Linked DNA regions of Homo sapiens. The protein of the gene in region 1 purifies or fractionates together with the protein of each later gene. This does not show direct contact. Each region holds a gene or a part of one and is shown on either strand. Other genes may lie near its edges. The genes, in order: ABLIM1 and NMT1.

The links.
Region 2: the proteins of ABLIM1 (region 1) and NMT1 purify together in Homo sapiens (affinity purification with mass spectrometry; 3 studies listed by BioGRID and IntAct, with this or other methods). This does not show direct contact.

The regions. Positions count from the first base shown.
Region 1 is NC_000010.11:114,569,537-114,579,766, forward strand, and holds part of ABLIM1 (actin-binding LIM protein 1), read right to left. Parts: intron 6,064-10,230; coding exon 5,880-6,063; intron 1,871-5,879; coding exon 1,761-1,870; intron 1-1,760. UniProt on the Homo sapiens protein: May act as scaffold protein. May play a role in the development of the retina. Has been suggested to play a role in axon guidance.
Region 2 is NC_000017.11:45,090,484-45,100,713, reverse strand, and holds part of NMT1 (glycylpeptide N-tetradecanoyltransferase 1), read right to left. Parts: intron 7,030-10,230; coding exon 6,911-7,029; intron 4,521-6,910; coding exon 4,429-4,520; intron 3,587-4,428; coding exon 3,470-3,586; intron 2,333-3,469; coding exon 2,162-2,332; intron 1,310-2,161; coding exon 1,201-1,309; intron 1-1,200.

The DNA.
Region 1 (10,230 bases):
CTTGAACTCCTGACCTCGTGATCTGCCCGTCTCAGCCTCTCAAAGTGCTGGGATTACAGGGCCTCTTTTTCTTAACTGGACAAGAATTCCTTCAAAGTTTTTGGTAATGTACTTTCAAAGCAAGCCCTCCCAAATAATGGGGTGACAATTCCCACTGGAGGTTACCTTCCCAGTGACCAGAGGCTAACTGTATCTCTTGTGTTTGGGGCAGGGTAGCAAGAATGGTGAAGGAGTTGAAACCCTACTAGGGGTCTAGGATGGTGCCTTGCTTTGTAGCTGTCATCCTACCCAAGCTGCTGTTATTTGTCGGAAGGTCACATAAATTCACACGCCAAGGATCCAGTCATGTGTGCTGAATAACATGTGCTAATATGTGTATTTTCTTCTTTCCTCCCAATGGTCAAAAATCCAATTTCTATGCAAATGCTTTAGTCAGAACATTCTTCTTTTTAACAAGTATAACACTTCTCTCTAATAGGAAGATTTGGAATCACTATTATAAATTGCACTGAATTTCTCTGGTGCAGAAGTGGTTTATCTCATCCTTACGTATTAAGACTCACTTAAGGGCTTAAAGAGGTTTATTCCAAATCTCCCAAGGACTGGCAAAAGCCACAGAACCCAAGGCAAACCTCTAGTTCACTTCCTAATGTCCCAGGAAAGAGATGGGAGTAGAGCTTCCTTGCTTGGTGCCCACAGTTCATAATGCATCAACTTCAAATGTGTGTTAACTGACCTACTCGATGTTATTTTCCAGAAGAAATGGTGCAATTGGCCACTCTTTTTATTTGGGGGTAAGTAGGTTCTCTATGGATTCTGACAGGTCAGACAAGACCTTGTAAATAATGACAAGTCCCCAGATATATGTGCAGCTTTTTCCCACACTTTCTTCAAACCTCTCCTTAGGTGTCATATTTGAGAGAAGTCTTCTCTGCCCCATATAAGTGCAGCTCTTTTATTCTGCTTTAATTTTATTCCTACTTTAATTTTTTTCACATATTAGATATTTTTGTGTATGCAAAGGAATTTCTGGGTCACATGGTAGTTCTATTTTTCTGGGTTTTTTTTTTTTTTTTTTTTTTTTTTGAGATGGTCTAGCTTTGTCACACAGGCTGGAGTGCAGTGGTACAATCTCAGCTCACTGCAACCTCAACCTTCGCCTCCCAGGCTCAAGCTATCCTCCCATCTCAGCCTCCCAAGTGGTTGGGACTACAGACGTGCACTATCATACACAGCTACTTTTTGCATTTTTTGTAGAGACGGGATTTTGTCATGTTGCCCAAGCTGTTTTTAAATGAGGCTCAAGCAATCCTCCCGCCTCAGCCTCCCAAAGTGCTGGGATTACAGGCATAAGCCACCACACCTGGCCTATTTTTAATTTCTTTAGGAGCCTCCATGCTGTTTTCCATGATGCCTACGTCAAGAATCTACATTCCTACCAACAGTGTTCAAGGGCTCCCTTTTCTCCACACCTAGGCTGATGCTCGTCATCTCCTGTCTTTTTCATAATAGCTATCTTAACAGGTATAAGTTGGTATCTTATGGTTGTTTTGATTTGCATTTCCCTGATGACTTATAACATTGAGCACCTTTTCATGTACCTGTTGGCCATTTTAATGTCATCTTTGGAGAAATATCTATTCAAGTAGATAGATGACTCTCATTTCCAGCTAACAGCGTTTCTCAAAAAGGAAGGCACCTGCCTGAGCTACCTCTGGACTACATAGGTATTCACGTCAGTGGGTCACCGGGGCACTTACTGCTGGAGAAGGTGGTTTCTTTCGGACTGGACGACATCGGCTGTGCACAGAGTTGACAAAGGCAGTCTCTCCCATTGAATGTGACTCGGTCTCCGGGTGGAAACGGGCGCCTGGAGGCAGAAAGACATCGCCCTCAAGGTTATTGCAGCAATTTCATTCCTTTTCCTTATTCCTTCTGCTTGCTGCCCTCCGGTGCCCATTTATTTCTTGGAGAAGCAGCAGCCAACATGTCTGAAATGCAGTCATAACCAAGCCAGCCAGCTGGAGACAGTCCAAACAAATAAATGTGCCTCATTTTGAGAAGAAAGGGGAATGTACTGGTTCTAAGGGCAACCAGGTAGTAAAATGGAATGATTTACCTCCATTCATTAGTGAAGGGATATTCCAGCAAGTGATCTAGCAGGGCACACAGAACAGTAAGTTTCCAAATGGAAAGTCCTTCATGAAAAAATATTTTAAATACCATGAATTCCCAGTGAAGCTTAAGGCCCTGCCCCAGGAGACCTGGCTACAGGTCAAGCAGTAAGCAGTGGGTCTTTCAGTTCCCTGGGACCGTGCCTAGACCTCTGTGATGATTATGCAGGATTAGACTTTGTGCTGGACACCTACATGGGTGAACGGAACGTTTCATGGTGCTGGAGACCCAGTCCCTTATAAACTGGGAGAAATGGGACAGGCTGTAAATATCTGTTTAAGAATTCATATTAGCTTCTTTTCAGAAAGACAATTTCTCTTCATAGTAGATATTCATCAATAGCAGCACATTTTGCAAAAATATTGCCTTCTGCATGTAGATAATCAGTTTCTTCTCCCAGGTCACCAGGCAGAGAGCCCTTTAAACAAGTCATTAATGAACAGACATATGACAGTTTCCATGCCCACTCACTTGCCCTTGGCCTATGTACCAATAATCTTCATTAAAGTGATTTTTCAAATGTGTGATGCTGCCAATTAGGAAACGTGAAACTCACAAGCTGAACATCACCACAAATCTTAGTTAGAAGCAATTACTTAAGAGCAAGTACCAGCTTTTTGACATTCATTTTTACTTCCACAGCTGCTACATTCCCTTTAAGTTGCCCCTCAGTAGCCTAACAATTGGCAATTAACTGTAATAAACAACATATAGGTAAATTTGGAGTTAACCCCACAAATGTGGCTGGCTCCAGTCATCACAGAGAGTTTTAAATTCTTACACCCTTACATTTTAGAAGTCCCGAGGAGAGGTGGTGTCCTCTCCACTTGTGATGCTGTGTCACTTTCGGCAGTACAGTGAAGGCTCAGAGAGGTGAAGTGACATGCCTGGACTGACCAGCTAGGGAGATCAAGCCATAGGCAGGTGCAGATGGCATCCACCAACTTAGAACTTGTTTTATTTTTAAGAATCAAAAATCACCCTCTGCTGGATGCCAGTAGCCCTACTGCTTCACACTCATTAGCTAAACCTGAACAAGTCTTAAATCTGTTCTGTAAGGAGGGAGTCAGGAAGTTAAGGATCCATTCAACACAACACGCACAGGTTCTTTTGCCTCCGACCAGGCCAGGAGTGGACCCAGACACAGCGTTTAAAGAGGCACTCGTGCTCCGTGGCTGACCCTGCACTTGCAGGACCCTGAGAATAAGTGCCCTTTACCTGTTGCATGCCCAGAGGCACCTCGCTTACCCCACCCAAGCCCAAGCCTTCCTTCCCATCCAAGCTTATTATTTTAGACCCAAGTCCCACACGAATCCTCTATGGGACAAGCCAGAATCCAGTTCTCAACTTGGGCTGGGCCTTCTGAAGGGTGGGTTTTGTTGTTTTGTAAATGGCCCTTTTCAGTAATTTCCTCCCTCCCTATATCCTCTGCCCATACTGGATAACTTCCTTCTTTTATTTGCATGAATGTTTATAATAGAAAGAGACCTGGATTTAGAGTTAGAAAACCTGAGTTCTAACGTTAACTTGGGAATGTCCCTTAAACCGTGAGCCTCAAAGTCACTCATAAATAGAGATATTAACTCCTGGTTCCCTTCAAAGAATTGCTAAGAGGGTGAAATTAACTTCTGTATGAATATAACTTCTCAACTAAAAAGGAGGCCCCAATTCAGACAGAATTATCGTCATTCGGCAGCAGTAGAGGCAGTAGCAGTAAGTGCTCCTTTGCTGGCTCAAATGTCCAGGGACAGGGCCATAGTTAATAAATCGTTTTTTATCATTATACCAACTTCAAAGCAATGACCTCTCAGGGTCAGGATCAGAAGGGCTCTTAGAGTTTACTGGGAACACGGCCTTCCAACCTGGCTGACTGACAACATACATGAGAACCCTCCAGAAACTACTAAATTAGCATGCAGGTTTTGGGGGAAAATAGGCTAGAAATTGATCTTTGTGGAGAGACTCCCATCTCTAGTCCACTCCCACCCATCCAGGAGATTCCAGTGATGAGCGAGGCTTGAAAAATGACTCGCATCTAGTTCACAGCTTCTCATTCTAAGGTGGAGGCAATTGTCTGGAAAAAGCTAAATCACATAGGTCTCAATTCAACCTGGGAAGTAAGACTGGGACTTGGGGCTCCATGCCAGCCCAGGACTCTTAACCAGGCTGTGTGCCACAGCCTGAAAAGGGAAAAATCAGGGCAGAACTTTGCTTTTGATTAAATACAGAAAAATATTCAGTTCATTCATCCAGAATTATTAAATTATGATTTAAAAAAATGAAATAGAGAAATGAGCTAATACATAGCTATAAAGTTATTTAAATAATTTTATTATGAATATTTTGTGTCTTATTATGATTTATCAGTATTATCTTGTTAATTAATTACACAATATTGAATCTTCCCTTCTAGAGCTTACATCTCTCTGGCTTAGAAACATACAATGCTGAAAAACAGACAACACGTCTCCTCTGAATTGGGGTTTTTAGAAAGGCATAGCAAATAGATCTCCACTTGAAAAGGCACTGGATTGCAAAATTGCCAAATTAGAATTGATCAATAAAGCAGCTGACCCTTGGTGGTGAGTCTCCTAGTTACAGGAATCAAACCTATCTTAAGTTTTATAACATGCAGACCTCAAAACACAAAAACCACAAAAAGCCCCACATTTTCCCACTCACACTTCACATAGTTTTCTTGTTCTCTGACTGATCATTTTATTATTTATTTTATTTTATTTTTTTTGAGATGGAGTCTTGCTGTGTCACCCAGATTGGAGTGCAGTGGCACGATCTCGGCTCACTGCAACCTCCGCCTCCCGGGTTCAAGCCATTCTCCTGCCTCAGCCTCCCAAGCAGCTGAGATTACAGGCACCTGCCACCTCGCCTGGCTAATTTTTTTGTATTTTTAGTAGAGACAGGGTTTCACCATGTTGGCCAGGCTGGTCTCAAACTCTTGAGCTCAGGTGATGTACCTGCCTCGGCCTCCCAAAGTGCTGGGATTATAAGGGTGAGCCACCACGCCCAGCCTGACTGATCATTTTAATCAAGCTGGTTTGCACAGTTAAGATACAACCTTGGTAGATGACAGATACATAGAGAACAGGGTTGGCAAATATTTCCCCCCAAAGATGAGATTGTAAATTTTTTAAGACTTTGCGGACCATATGGTCTCTGTCGCAATGACTCAACTCTGTTGTTGCAGCGTGGAAGCAGCTATAGGCCACACACAAGTGGGAGTGGCTGTGTTCCAATAGAACTTTATCCACAAAAACAGGTATCAGGCCTAATTCAGCCCATGGGACACAGTTTGCCACCGCCTATTATAGATGAAAGAGACCATTTTAAACACACACACATGCCTAGGAATTTATACTTCCAAATAAGCTTTATCCTTCTAAGCAGTTATGCCATTTCCCCCTGATGTTTTTATTGCTCCAAAATGTTTTGAGACCCAGAGCTGCTTTCAGAATTAGTTTCAATCTACTAAAAATCAGTCATATTACTTTGTAGAGGACATCACACATACAGTTTCCAACTAATCTACTTTTTTTACTAGGACTGATAGTACAGTAAGAAAGAAATCTAAGGATAAGAGTATGTGCTACTCAAGACAAAAGGTGTATAATCCAACCTTTAACAGCCCAAACCAGCATTTCTCTGTTGGAGGAAGGTGTAGGCTTTGGAAAGATAGGCTCACTTACTTGCAGATAGTACAAGCAAAGCAATTGGGATGGTAGGTCTTGCCCAGAGCAGTCACCACTTCGCCCTCCACGAACTCCCCACAGCCATGGCAGCGTGTCCCGTACATCCGCTGGTAGTCCAGGGTGCAGAGATACTCTCCGTTCTTTATGAAGAAGCCCCCTTGTGCCAGGTCACAGCCACACACTGTAGAGAGACAAGTTCACATCTGGTCATTATCTGCCACACTGCCGGGCAGCACTGCCTTTGAGTGAATACTGACTGGTTGCTCACCCTGTGATCTCAATGGTTTGGGGCTAGGGAGGGGATGGCTACAAAGAGCTATTTATTATTGGGCTCTGACCCTCCCTTTGGGAGCTATGCAATATCTCATACAAGTAAAATCCACTGGCTAGGTCTCAACAGCTTTTGTGATATGTCTAAAATTCTGAGATAATCAAACAGTCTTTGATAGAAAGATACCCTTCATTCAGGCTGTCTCAAATATGAGCAAAGGTGTCCCTGGCAGTGTGCTATTTAGGAAAGGTGCCCACTGCCTGCCCACACAACCACATGGTTTGGGCCAAGATTGTTAGGAGTTGAGTAATAAATTTCCATTATACCAAAGGCAGTAGCTGAAATTTCCGATAGCTGTATTTTTTCACACTCTGGAACTACTTTCCACTGCTACGAAAAATTCAGATGTTTCATTTTTTCTTTGTGCAGTAAATAGAATAAGCCAATTATTTATATATTATAGAGAGATAAAAAACAAACAGGCAAAAGAGGAAAGACCTGTTATTTGGATGCTTTATTGTGTCTGGATTTTGGCATCTCCTTCCGACTGTGCAGCTGTGGATTAGGGAGATGGTGCAAACAGGCAGTGGGAGCTTGGGCCTGGTCTACGTGTTCAGACAAGACCAGAGTAGGTCACAACAATTTGTCTGCAAATAAAGCCTAAAGCAGTCCCTGACAGTAAAGATCTCTCTCTGCCAAATGGCTGAGAAGCAACAGCCAAAGCTGGAAATCTCTGACCCTAACCTTGCTATCCCCAAGGTCAACTGATTCCAATTTATAATTCCTTAGGCAAAGAATCCAGGATTCTTCTTGATTATTTGGTATTCAGTTGGGGTGGGGACAAGGTGAGTTCAATCAGTAAATTGCTTTCCTAAGGACCTGCTCGAATGCTCCCAGGGTTCATCTGCTGAGTTCCCATGACTCCTTAATTCATCTAGATGAACTAGGGCTTCAGTAAGGTTCTGATGAAAGTCACGACTCCCCCACCTTCAGTCAGGACTCTTCACTAACTACAAGCTACGGAAGACGTTCAAGGTGATCCAAAACCCACAAACAAACTTTCCATTGTGGATTCATCAGTCTTTGTTTAGATCAACACTCCACAGCCATGACCTTCTTCTTTGCAATTTACAATTAAGTAACCCAAGATTATGGCCTGAGTCCATCATGCCTGAAACTGACCACCCTATAAATACTCCTGTGATCATATTATCTGGAAAACAGCTCATTCACCACCTGCTGCCTCCTCTCACCTGCCAACCTCTCCTCTGCCCCCACTGTTCTCCCACCTGCTTCTTCTTCCCCAGATGAGTCCTGTGGGTCAGGGGAACCCACGTGTGGATTGGCCTCATTCTGATTGCAAATTCCTTCAGCAACAATAGGCAGTCTGGGGGTAGCGGGTCACAGAACCTTAGAGTGTTTTCTTCAATATCTGTCTATGTGCAGATCTTATTTTTCTACAAGATGGCAAGGTATTTGAGGGGTGAGAGTCTTCTTTTGATTCTTCTTCAGGAACCTAATTGTATCTAATATAAAACAGGAAACACAATGTTTGAAATAAACTGAATCCTGCCTGAAACTTGGCAGGTTCCCACTGATTTCACTCCTCAGTGACATCAAGTTCTGATGACTCAGTTATTTTTCCAAACTTAGGATTTCTCAAAGCCCTGAGAAGTGACACAACAATGCATCCAGACTACTGGTAATTCCCTAAATTCTCTCCTCCAGTCAGCTATGGCTTAAAAATGCAGAGTCGTTATACAAAGATGTGGTGTCAAAAGGGTAATCTGGTGGCAATACACAAAAAATAGATTGAGATAGTTTCAAAGCTAATTCTAAATGTTTTAGAAATTATTTGTATTTACTGCTTTCTTAGGGCACCTGTCTGCAGCCTTTTCCAGATCACATGGTTTTGTGAAATTGACATATAGTATCCTTTATTAATAAAGTCCTAGTTTCTGTGAACATAACATAGCCTTAAAAAATGAATTCTTAACACTACTGAGAGATGCCAAGCTACATTCAAACTGTGCCTTATTATGATTTGATTTGGCTTTTTCCTTAAAGTAGTGCTCAAGGTGGCTTACAAACCATACCATTATTTCTGGTGGTTTATACAAGGAAACCAGTGTTTGATGTGACTCCCAGAGGCAGGTGTTCCTAAAGGCATATGCAACAAGCAGTGAGAAGGGGGGCCTATGATGCCAGTACCTAAAATATACTTAACATTATTACATTTCCTGAAAATGGACCAGCTGTCACATCATTTCAGACTCTTCCCTCTCTTGCCTCCCCAGGCTTTACTTTCCTGTTTCTCCTCCTCTGTCTACTCCTTCTCAGTCTCAGTGGCCAGGCCCCTAAATGCAGGTCACTCCTATGGGTGCCATCTCCTCCCTCTATGATGTAAGGCCTCCCTGGGAACAGATCTCATTCACTCTCACAACCTCAACTATAACTTTATGCGAGGGATGATCAAATTAATGATCTCTCTCTGTGATGTCTTCCCCAAGCTTTAGACCCTGATTTGTAGCTGTGTGCTGGGCACAGGCAGACCGCCATGCCTCTCTCAAACCCAGCATTTTCCAAACACACCCTTTCCTCACAGTTGCTCTGCCATCCCCCATAAAACCTTCTGCTGTTCTTTTTCTATTCCCTTTCTCATCAAAATGGTAGCTGTATCCATTCTCCAACTCTTACATCAACATCAACATTTTCTGTTGTTTTTTTTTTTTTTGAGATGGAGTTTCGCTCTTGCTGTCCAGGGTGGAGTGCAATGGCATGAATTCGGCTCACTACAACCTCCACCTCTCCAGTTCAAGCGATTCTCCTGCCTCAGCCTCCCAAGTAGCTGGGATTACAGGCATGTGCCACCACACCCGGCTAATTTTGTATTTTTAGTAGAGATGGGGTTTCACCATGTTGGTGAGGCTGGTGTTGAACTCGTAACCTCAGGTGATCTGCCCAACTCGGCCTCCCAAAATGCTGGGATTACAGGTATCAGCCACCACGCCCAGCCAACATCAACATCTTCAACTGGACCCAAATCCAACCCATTTCCCCAATGAGGTGTTTCTTTTTCTTTCTTTCTTTCTTTTCTTTTTTTTTTTTTTTTTGAGATGGAGTTTCACTCTTTGTTGCCCAGGCTGGAGTGCAGTGGCATGATCTCAGCTCACTGCAACCTCTGCCTCCTGGGTTCAAGCGATTCTCCTGTCTCAGCCTCCCGAGTAGCTGGGATTACAGGTCCCTGCCACCACGCCTGGCTAATTTTTGTATTTTTAGTAGAGATGGGGTTTCACCACATTGGCCAGGCTGGTCTTGAACTCCTGACCACAGGTGATCTGCCCACCTCAGCCTCCCAAAGTACTGTTATTACAGACGTGAGACACTGCTCCTGGCCCAATGAGGTGTTTCTTTGATCCATTCCCTCCTCTGCCTTCTTGCTATCACTACTCAAAACCTGGCCTTCAGCATGGCTCTGCTGTAGTAAAACAATTTTTTTTAACAACATTTGTATTGGCAGGAAAAGAAAAACAACAGGAAACAATCTAAACTTTCATTAGTAGAAAAATAGTTGAATAAATTATGCTATGTCCAGTCTATGGAGCTGGTATTAAAAAGAATGAATTTAGCCCTCTGGATTGTGGATATTGACAGCCCTCTACGTTGCAGACATTGATCTGTCTGTGATATATTGTTCAGTGAAAAGAACAAATGTCACAGAGTAAACGATTTTAAAAATCCCATTTTTAGATAAGTCATGTTTTTATGAACTAGGTAAAGTGAGTTAACATAAACAGAACCATTAAATTGGTTCTCTCAGGAGGGTAAAGAATTATTAATTTTTTCTTCATATACCCACTTGTCAGTCCATTTTGTAATTTTATTTTTAATTGTGACAAAATGCATATAACAAAAAATTTACCATCTTAATCATTTTTAAGTGTACAGGTCAGTGGCATTAGATACATTCACATTGTTGTGCAACCATCACTGCTATCCATCCACAGAACTCTTTTCATCTTGCAAAACTGAAACTCTGCACCCATTAAAATCCCTATTCCCTCTTCCTCCAGCCCT
Region 2 (10,230 bases), on another chromosome or scaffold:
AATTTTTTGTATTTTTATTAGAGACAGGGTTTCACCGTGTTGGCCAGGATGGTCTCGATCTCCTGACCTCGTGATCCGCCTGCCTTGGCCTCCCAAAGTGCTGGGATTACAGGCGTGAGCCACCACGCCCAGGCTTCTTTTATTTTGAGACGGAGTCTCGCTCTGTCGCCTAGGCTGGAGTGCAATGACGTGATCTTGGCTCACTGCAAGCTCCACCTCCCGGGTCCATGCCATTCTCCTGCCTCAGCCTCCCAAGTAGCTGGGACTACAGGCACCCACCACACCACGACTGGCTAATTTTTTATATTTTTACTAGAGACGGGGTTTCACCGTGTTAGCCAGGATGGTCTTGATCTCCTGATCTCGTGATCTGCCCACCTCAGCCTCCCAAAGTGCTGGGATTACAGGCGTGAGCCACTGCGCCTGGCAGCAAAACCCCGTTTCTATAAAAACAAAAATTGGCCGGGCATGGCGGCACACGCCTGTAGTCCCAGCTACTTGGGAGGCTGAGGTGGGAGAATCAGTTGAGTCTGGGAGGTCGAGGCTGCAGTGAGCTGTGACTGTGCCACTGCACTCCAGCCTGGGCAACAGAATGAGACCCTGTCTCAAAACAAAAAAAAAAGAATCCCTACCTGAAGCCAGCCACAGTTGGAGCATTTGTTTCTTTGGGAAACTAGGAAAACTGAGACCCAGAACAGAAAAGCAGCTCACTTTAAGGTTGCCCAGTCCTTCAGCCAAATCTGGGTGGGGAAATTGGGATTAGAAATCGGGGATCCCTCACAAGCTCAGGTCACCCTTTACCTGACCCGGCAGAGGGGCGTCACAGACCCTGTAGTGCATCTGCGCTGGGCTTTGGAACGCGCTGCCGTGTGTATGAAGGTTCACTAAGTGGATTCATCATTCTATTTATGCTTTACTTAGGCTAAAATTACAGAGAATAGGTGTTCTCTGAGCCTTTCAACAGATGGCAGAGAAGCTAGTCCAGGCACAGACTCAGAGGAACTGAGAAAGTTAAACTAAAATAAAATCCTGCTTCAGATAACAGAAATAGAAAGTCCAGGAAATCTGAAGACTATGGGCTGGTTCGCTTTTCCAGTAGGAGAAAGCTCCCTCTCCACCCAGAGCCCTTCTCTCCTGCTGACAGCCAGGCTCTCCTTGCCCTCTCTCTGCCCCCTGCCCACCACCCGGGGCAGCACTGGCCTCTGGCAGTCGGTAGAGCTTCATGGTGCGCTGCATGGTCATATTTCTGCTCAGGTGGGAGAACTTCACTTCAATCAGCTTCCGTGGGTTTAGGGACCGATGCCAATACCTGTGGGGACACAAATGTCCTGTCCTCAGGGTTCTGGCCAATCCCTATTACAAGGACAATGGCAGGGAGACCCCAGCTGGCCAGCAGGTGGCGTGAGAGACACATCAGGTGCCTCCGGAGTCAGTGGTGTCACCCTGCTCTCCAGCCTCCCCCTCCCCACAGTGAGTGCTGCCAAAGCTCCTCCTGGATTTTCTTTCTCCCTATTTTTCTTGCTCAATTTCAAAAACTATTCCTTTGCTACAGCGGTTGTCTGGGGAGACCAATCCTCACTCCTAGAATCAAGTCAACGGAAAAGGACTGTAGTCATGCCCAGAAGATGATGGCAGAGGCACTCACCCTCCTCCCTCCTCCCCTTCTGCTTTCACACCTGGTGTTTTTACTTTTAAAGTTCTCTAAGGAGAGATTATTCAATTGTTTTAAACAACTTTCTAAGGCAGAGGTTGCCCTTAGATCACATAGCTGACTTGCTCTATTTGGTGCACACAATATTCAAAACAATTTGAGCCAACCATTTAAAACTTTAGGACATTTCCCATAAAAATCCAGATTTGGGCTCATCCCTAAAAACAAAAACAAACCACCAGTACCGCCCCCCACCATCTCCAAATGGCAGCAGCCAGCAGACACCAAGAGCCCTCCAGACAAGGCAGGGACTTGCCAATCTGCCATCCCTACAACCCTCCCGCCCTCTCCATGCTCCCCATCTGGCTCCTGCAGGCACCAAGTGCCCGCCTTACCAGATACGCCAGAGGTGGGATGCTAAGGGCGGAGCTGTGACTCACAGTGGCACATGCTCCTCAACTACAGTGCAGACACCCGCATTTTTGGGGCCTTACAGGAAGACAGTTTTACCTGCAGGTGCCAACGGGCTTTGGTAGTACCACCCCGGCAGTGTAAACTGCTTGGAAGATGCCCTCCAGGTGAACCCGCCTGGTGATCTCTCGGATCAGAACTGGAGCAACCCTCTTGGAACGCAGCTTCTTGTGGACACACAGGAAGTTGATCTCTACCATCTTCTTCTCTCTAAGAGGGGGAAAAATCCAGGTGACAAGGTTTTTAACAGGGAAGGGAATGGTGATCCCATCAAGCACGTGCAGCCACACCTAGAAGGACCAGGTCTGCAGCACGGGTGTACTTTTAGCTGCCACCTGCACTCAGTACTGGGACTCCCCACCACACTCCACCAGGCAAGGAGCCTGCCTCACTTCAACAGAATCTATTTCCAAAGGAAGGTGGGACCCAAGCAAACACCTTTATTTGAAGGTACCACCAGCATCTCCCTGATGAGTCCCTAGGAGTTGGCTGGGGAATCCCACCTTTAGCATGCAGGGAAGCAGCACAGGGAACCCACGGGGCAGGTCAAGGCAATTCTAGGGTTTCAAGGGTTCTGATTCCCTCAAGAACACAGCTGGTAATAAGCCCTGAAGACTGTGGCAGGCAGATGGTTTCAACACTTCCAGGGAAAATGAAGAGCAGAGATCACAGGCCCCAAGGACTATCTGAATCTGGGTCACACTCGCTCTGGCCCATTTCTGCTGCTGTTCAAGTGCTTCCATGTGTGACTGGTACAGGCGTTCAAAAATGAGCCTCTGATTAGCCAGGTGTGGTGGCGCATGCCTGTAATCCCAGCTACTTGGGAGGCTGAGGCAGGAGAATCGTTTGAACCCTGGAGGTGGAGCTTGCAGTGAACCAAGATCGCACCACTGCACTCCAGCCCGGGCAACAGAGTGAGACTAAGAAAAGCCTCTGGCCAGGCACAATGGCTCACGTCTATATTCCCAACACTCTTGGGAGGCAGAGGTGAGTGGATCACTTGAGCTCAGGAGTTTGAGACTAGCGTGGGCAACATAGCAAGACCTTGCCTCTATAAAATGTAAAAAATAATAAACAAAAACAAAAACAAGCCTCTGCTGAGCAGGCACACCAGGCCTCAGGGTGGGCTCCTTCCAACCTGGGCCACAAACAAGGGAGCTGGCTGGGACTCTGAGCAGAACAGGTGGTTCCTAGGATGAATCTGCAGTCCCCGCACCTGGGCATCCTCCCTTCCTGAGACCTTCCCTCTTCCTTTCATGGGGCACATTGTGCAGCCTTTTTCTACTCTCTCCCAGACCAAGCAGGATGGCGGTGTTGTGGGGGGTGGGGGTAGGTGCAGGTGCTTACGTGTCATAGATATGGATGTTTGCTGGGATGGCGCTAATGAACCCAACCAATTTCCGACTTGAGACCACTCGAACCCCACAGTGCCACTGGGGGAGCCAGCCGGGTGGCCGGAGAGCCCTGGAAAAGAGAGGCTGGGGTGGTTGTGCTGCTTGCCGGCAGGCTGGACAAGCCGCTTGGGCTCCACAGCCAAATTTGGTTCGGACCTGGTGCTACCACCTCCCTGAGGGTTAATAGCTGGATTCTCTTTAGGGCCAAGCCCTCCTGGACACACAGAATCGAGCCATCACCATTTCTGGCTGCTCATCCCATTTGGCCTAGTTACTCATCCAACCCAAGGTTATCATACTGAGGATTTCATGCCTGATCCAATTTCTGTGTTCACTTTGACAGCTTGAACCAAGGTACTGGCATCTTTGGTTCGGAGGCCAGTGGGTCCCATGGTTGAGAGCTGACTGTGGCAACCCTGGAGCTCTGGTGTCCTGTCTCCCTCTTTCTGGTACAAATTCTTCCTTCCCTTTCAGGTAGTCCCTCTCCATTTCGGCCCATGCCTCTCTCTTCCTGGATATTAAACGTGGCCTGGGCAGGTGGATGGCTCAGCCAGGCAAGGCTATACAACTGAGCATGCTCAGGAACTAGATAGAAAATGTGCCTTCTTTTCTTTCAGTCTTAGTAGGTCTCATGCCCGTTCCTTTCTTATATAAAGTCACCAGACAATGAATACCTCTTCCCTGGGTACTAGCTCTACGAAGGTCTCCCTCACCCAGTCAATTGTCTTAAACAAGGCTGCAATTCTAAGTGCTAATGAAAGCAAGTGTCCTTCAGATGCAGGAACTCAAAAATGACACACTAATTTGCCATTCAAAGGTTGGCCCCTGGCAGGGATGAAAACTCTGGTGCCCTCTGGTGGATCTGCTCTATGCCTTCCTCTCAAGAACCTCAAGAAAGCCCCCACAACTTACCACAAAAGAAACTCCGGGGAATAATCAAATCGGAACATGTTGTCATCATCTTCCACATAGTTCTCATTCAGGAGGGTGTACAGTTCTTTTAGCTGTAAAGAAATAAGCAGCTCACTTGGAGGTATTCTGCCAGGTAGTAGACCAACTCCAATACCCTGGGGCTCTAGGCTTTTCAGAAGGATGAAGCAAACTACCAAAAACGACGTGGAGTCTCACAAATCCTTCTGCCCCCTGGCATGGTAGGAACTCTTGGAGCAAACACCCTAGTTATAGTAGAAAACTGAGCCATCACGTGGTAGAGTGGCAGACCGAGAATGCCACCTAACTAACCAACCACTTCATCATTCTGCGCCATCAACAATGGAGAGCCACTGGTCTCAACTTCTGTGAAGTGCTATAGAGGGACGACTCTCGAAGCTAGTCAAGGAATTACCACGGAGAGTCACTGCTGTTTCCCACCTTGTCTGATTTTTTACCATCTGGCCCAAACAAAGGCCTTTTTTCCTTTCTTTTCAAGATAGAGTCTCACTCTGTTACCCAGGCTGGAGTGCACTGGTGTGATCATGGCTCACTGCAGCCTCCAACTCCTGGTTTCAAGCGATCCTCCTACTTCAGCCTCCTGGGTAGCTGAGACTACTGGGGCATACTACCATGTCCGGCTAATTATTAAATTTTTTTCTTTTGTAGCGGGGGCAGTCTCACTATATTGACCCGGCTGATTGATTTTGAACTCCTGGGCTCAATCGATCTTCCCACCTTAGACTCCCAAATTGTTGGAATTACAGGTGTGAGCCACCACACCCAACCACAAAGGCCTTTTTCTGCCTTCTCAGCTATCTCCATCTGCTGGCCCAACTTTGGTATTAAAAAATTCTGTTGGCCCGGTGTGGTGGCTCAAGCCTGTAATCCCAGCACTTTGGGAGGCTGAGGTGGGCGGATCACCTGAGGTCAGAAGTTTAAGACCAGCCTGGCCAATGTGGTGAAACCCCATCTCTACTAAAAAATAAAAAAATTAGCCTGGCGTGGTGACAGACACCTGTAATCCCAGCCACTGGGGAGGCTGAGGCAGGAGAATTGCTTGAACACAGGAGGTGGACGTTGCAGTGAGCCAAGATTGTGCCATTGCACTCCAGTCTGAGCAACAGAGCAAGACTCCATCTCAAAAAAAAAAAAAAGACTGGGCGCAGTGGCTCATGCCTGTAATCCCAGCACTTTGGGAGGCCGAGATGGGTGGATCATGAGGTCAGGAGTTCGAGACCAGACTGGCCAACACAGTGAAACCCCATCTCTACTAAAAATACAAAAATTATCCATGCATGGTGACAGATGGTTGTAATCTCAGCTACCTGGGAGGCTGAGGCAGGAGAATCACTTGAACCTGGAAGGTGGAGGTTGGGGTAAGCCAAGATCGCGCCACTGCACTCCAGCCTGGGCAACAGAACCAGACTCTGTCTCAAAAAAAAAAAAAAAAGCCAGGCCTAGTGGCTCATTGCCTGTAATCCCAGCACTTTGGGAGGCCAAGATGGGCAGATCACCTGAGGTCAGGAGTTCGAAACCAGCCTGGCCAACATGGTGAAACACCATCTTTTCTAAAAATATAAAAATTAGCTGGGCGTGGTGGCACTCACCTGTAATCCCAGCTACTCGGGAGGCTGAGGCAGGAGAATCGCTTGAACCCAGGAGGCAGAGACTGCAGTGAACTGAGATGGTGTCACTGCACTCCAGCCTGGGCAACAGAGCGAGACTCCATCTCAAAAAAAAAAAAAATTCTGTTGACTTTTTTTTTTTTTTGAGACAAAGAGTCTCGCACTGTCACCTGGGCTGGAGTGCAATGGTGAGATCTCAGTTCACTACAACATCCCCCTCCCAGGTTCACGAGATTCTCCTGCCTCAGCCTCCTGAGTAGCTGGGATACAGGCGTACACCACCACACCTGGCTAATTTTTTGTATTTTTAGTAGAAATGGGGTTTTATTATGTTGGTCAGACTGGTCTCAAACTCCTGACCTCATGATCCGCCTGCCTCAGCCTCCCAAAACGGTGGGATTACAGGTGTGAGCCACCACGCCCGGCGACATTTTCATCATTCTTTATAAGGGAAATAAATCCCTCAGGTCAAAACAAGGGGCTCTGGGTGGCCGGGGTGGAAAGGGGAGGACAGGGCCTCATTTAGCAGCCCCAGCTGCTCCAGTCAGGAGACAGACTAGAAAGAAAATGAGGAAATGAATGAACAAAAAAGAATAAATGAAAAACAGGTATCCACATCGGGGACCTACAGAGGTTAACTTCCAACCTGCCAGAAAAGCTAAGAGCTATTTATGTGGAGTCTTGGCCATGCCCCAGGAAGTTACAGACGGGAGTCTGTTCAGACCTCCTTGGCTCAGCTCTCTAGGGCTCGAGTAAACGTAGTCTAGGTGAGACTGCAGGGCTTACTGTGAAAGTGGCTCCTACCCGCAGGTGTAACCTTCTGAGGGCCCACTCACCACACCACGATCGCCCAGGTCCAAAGCATCCCAGGTGAAGCCCTGGGGCAGGGTGTAGGGCTCCTGGCGGATATTGTCCTTGTCAGGCTCCACGGGGCCATGGGTGTTCACCACTTCGCCTGAAAGAAGAGCACAGCTGTGAGCCTCACCCTTTGCCCCCTCGGGGCAGTAAAGGGCTCAGTTCAAAACTCAACCAGAGCAAATTCCTCCTGTCCCTAGGAGCCCTCTATCTGAAGAACATTCTGTGCTTGGCAACTGCAAACCGTCTTTCCAGCTACCCTTAGCCCCTAACTGAGGGCCAATTCATGGCAAAACCTCAGGACAATCACTGGGATCCAAGGTGGTTCGTGTTTTGGAAATCCATTTAAATCTCCCTTGGGTCACTGAATGACAAACATTTATCTTTAGTAATTTGGCTTCCTGCCTCCTGGTTGGTGTAAAGAGTGCTGTCAGGGCCCTGGCCCAGGCCCATCAGTCTGGATGGGTTTGTAAGGAGTCACAACAAGGCTGCTTTTGTGTCAACAGCAACAACAATGTACTGGGCCCATTTCTGAACCAGATGATGGCTTCTAGGCGCCAGGCTCAATCGTGGCCCTGCCAGCCTTGGCTTTCAGCAGCGTGAGCCAGTTAACTGCTACTGCCAACTCAGGCCCTCAGTGTTTAGAGTCCTGCAAGTGCCTTTGGGCTGAATCACCAAGTCTACATAGTGCTGCCGGGAAGTCACCCTGACACAACATCCCCTCCCTGAGCAGGATAGGCCCCTCCTCTGTGGGAGCATGTGGGGAGTGCTCCAAAGACACAGCCCTCATTCCTATCCAGAGCTCAATCGGACTCATATATGCTGAGAGATTCACCACTGAATTCTGGCCCTTGGGATGATTTCGGTTCTACAATGGGCTCACTCATGTTTACACTGGGAAGAATGCAATGTTTAGTGCATTTTGGAAAATGGAGTCTTCAAAAGGGACCAACCCAGTAACAGTGTTCCTAGCAAAGGGCTCTGTATAGACTAGGCACTCAATTCATGCTTTTACTGACTTTCAGACTCCTGATCCCAAATATTTTTTTTTTCTTTTCTTTTCTTTTTTTTTTTTTTGAGACAGTCTCATTCTGTCGCCCAGGTTGGAGTACAGTGGTGCGATCTTGGCTCACTGCAACCTTCACCTCCCTGGTTCAAGCAATTCTCCTGCCTCAGACTCCCGAGTGGCTGGAATTACAGGTGTCCGCCACCACGCTGGCTAATTTTGGTGTTTTGTTTTTTTTTTTTCAGTAGAGATGGAGTTTCACCATGTTGGCCAGGCTGGTTTCAAACCCCTGGCCTCAAGTGATCCACCCGCCTCGGCCTCCCAAAGTCCAAACATTTCATTCTAACATGTAACAGGAAGCTCTAGACCTTCCCAGAATGATAATCTGTGGGGCAAGTGTGGTGGAAAGGGCTGCATCAGGCTGCAGCACACGACACCACCGCTGGCACTGATCATCTCACCCTCTTCCATCAGACACATTACTGAGCACCAACCGTGCACCAGTGACTCAGTGACCATGCCAGCCCCTAGTGTACAGCAGGAAAAAGGACCAAGTCCCTGTCCTCATGAGACATACCATCTTCTGGGGAAATAGTAAATAAATGAGTCATTATCCACGTGCTGCAGGTCAGGATCTGGAAAGTGCAGGGACACACAACAGGGAAGCAGCCTGCTCTGTTGGTAATCAGGCTTCCCAACAGGTTTGCTTGGGAGAGAGGTCATATTTTTCTTCCCTAGTTAGGAAACTCATGACTGGCGAGATGGGGTCTTGCTCTGTTGCCCAGGCTGGAATGCAGTGGCGTAACCTTGGTTCACTACAGCCTCGACCTCCTAGGCCCAAACGATCCTCCCATCTCAGCCTCTCGAGTGGTTGGGACTATAGGCATGCGCCACTACGCCTGGCTAATTTTATTTTTCATAGAGATGAGGTCTCACTGTTGCCCAGGCTGGTCTCAAACTCCTAGACTCAAGTGATCCTCCTGCCTTGGCCTCCCAAAATGCTGGGATTATAGCATGAGCCACGGCGCCCAGCCAAAACCCACCATTTGATTATTCATAAAGTAGCTCTTGTGAATTTAAGTCAATCCGCTTCCAACTGACAGCTATGTATATTAAAAAAACATTTTTGAGCCTACAAAACTGAGGGCCAGACCCTCTAGTCTTATCTAGGTGCTAATTTCCCAACTTGTATTGAATTTATACCTTTTCCTATACACTTCAGAACCTTCTTTTTTTCCCCCTGAATTATTTCCATGGCCAAGAATACTGATGGTCTTCCCTATTGTACTAAAATAACCTCAAGGCTAAATCTTCTCATTTAGGCTGGCTACTAGGTCCTACACGCAACAGGCACTTCCATTCACTCACTCCTTCACCAAGTGTTCACTGAATCCTAGAATGTGCCAGTTCTGTGGCAGGGGCTGGCGAATGAAACAGACACAGGTCCTCACCATCATGGACACCAAAGAGATGAGCAAGGATGCACATGCCACCCGGCATGGTGAGGGCCAGTAAGAATGAAGTACAGGGTGCTATGGGACGTGTGTGTGTGTGTGTGTGTGTGTGTGTGTGTGTGTGTGTGTGTGTGTGTCAGGAAAGACCTCTCAGAGGAAATATCTAACGACAAGACCTCAAGGATAATTAGGAATCAGCCAGGCTGCAGGTGGACTATGTGGGGCAGGGTGGGTGTGAAAAAGTAGAGCTACAGGAAACACTGAAAAGGGAGCAGCCACTTTTACTAGACTCCCACTGTGGAGTGCCCTCGATGCCAAGAAGCAGCCCAAGGCTCCTGTGCTGTCCTCGGTGTGGTGCCAGCATCATGGCCTCTGCTTGTCCTGCTCTGTGGGGAGCAGCCTGCCTTCTCCCTTACAATGGCCTTTGAGTACCTCCTGCTGAGCAGGGGTGGAAGGCTGCTCTGCAGAGCACAGCAAGAATGCAGCTGATTCTCTCAAGGCCAACATGAACCAATAAATGACTAAGGATGACACTTCGAACTTGCTTTAAAAGAATCTGGAAGTTTAAAGAAAACCCTGAGCTTTCAATGGGTTTCTTTCTGCACACTCTTCCCTCAAAATTCTCTCCATGACATCAAACATCAGAGACCCAAAACTAAGCAATGCGGTGCAACTGTGAAGGACTTCGGAGAAATGAGAATGTCTGAGATGCGGAAAACATTAAACCAAACAAAGGCCAAGGAGAGGAAAAAGAGAGGGGAAGCTTCTCTCTGGGACCCATGGAAACCAGGTGAGTGCACATCCTCCCTTTGATAGTGACTTTTTAAAACAGAGTGGCCAC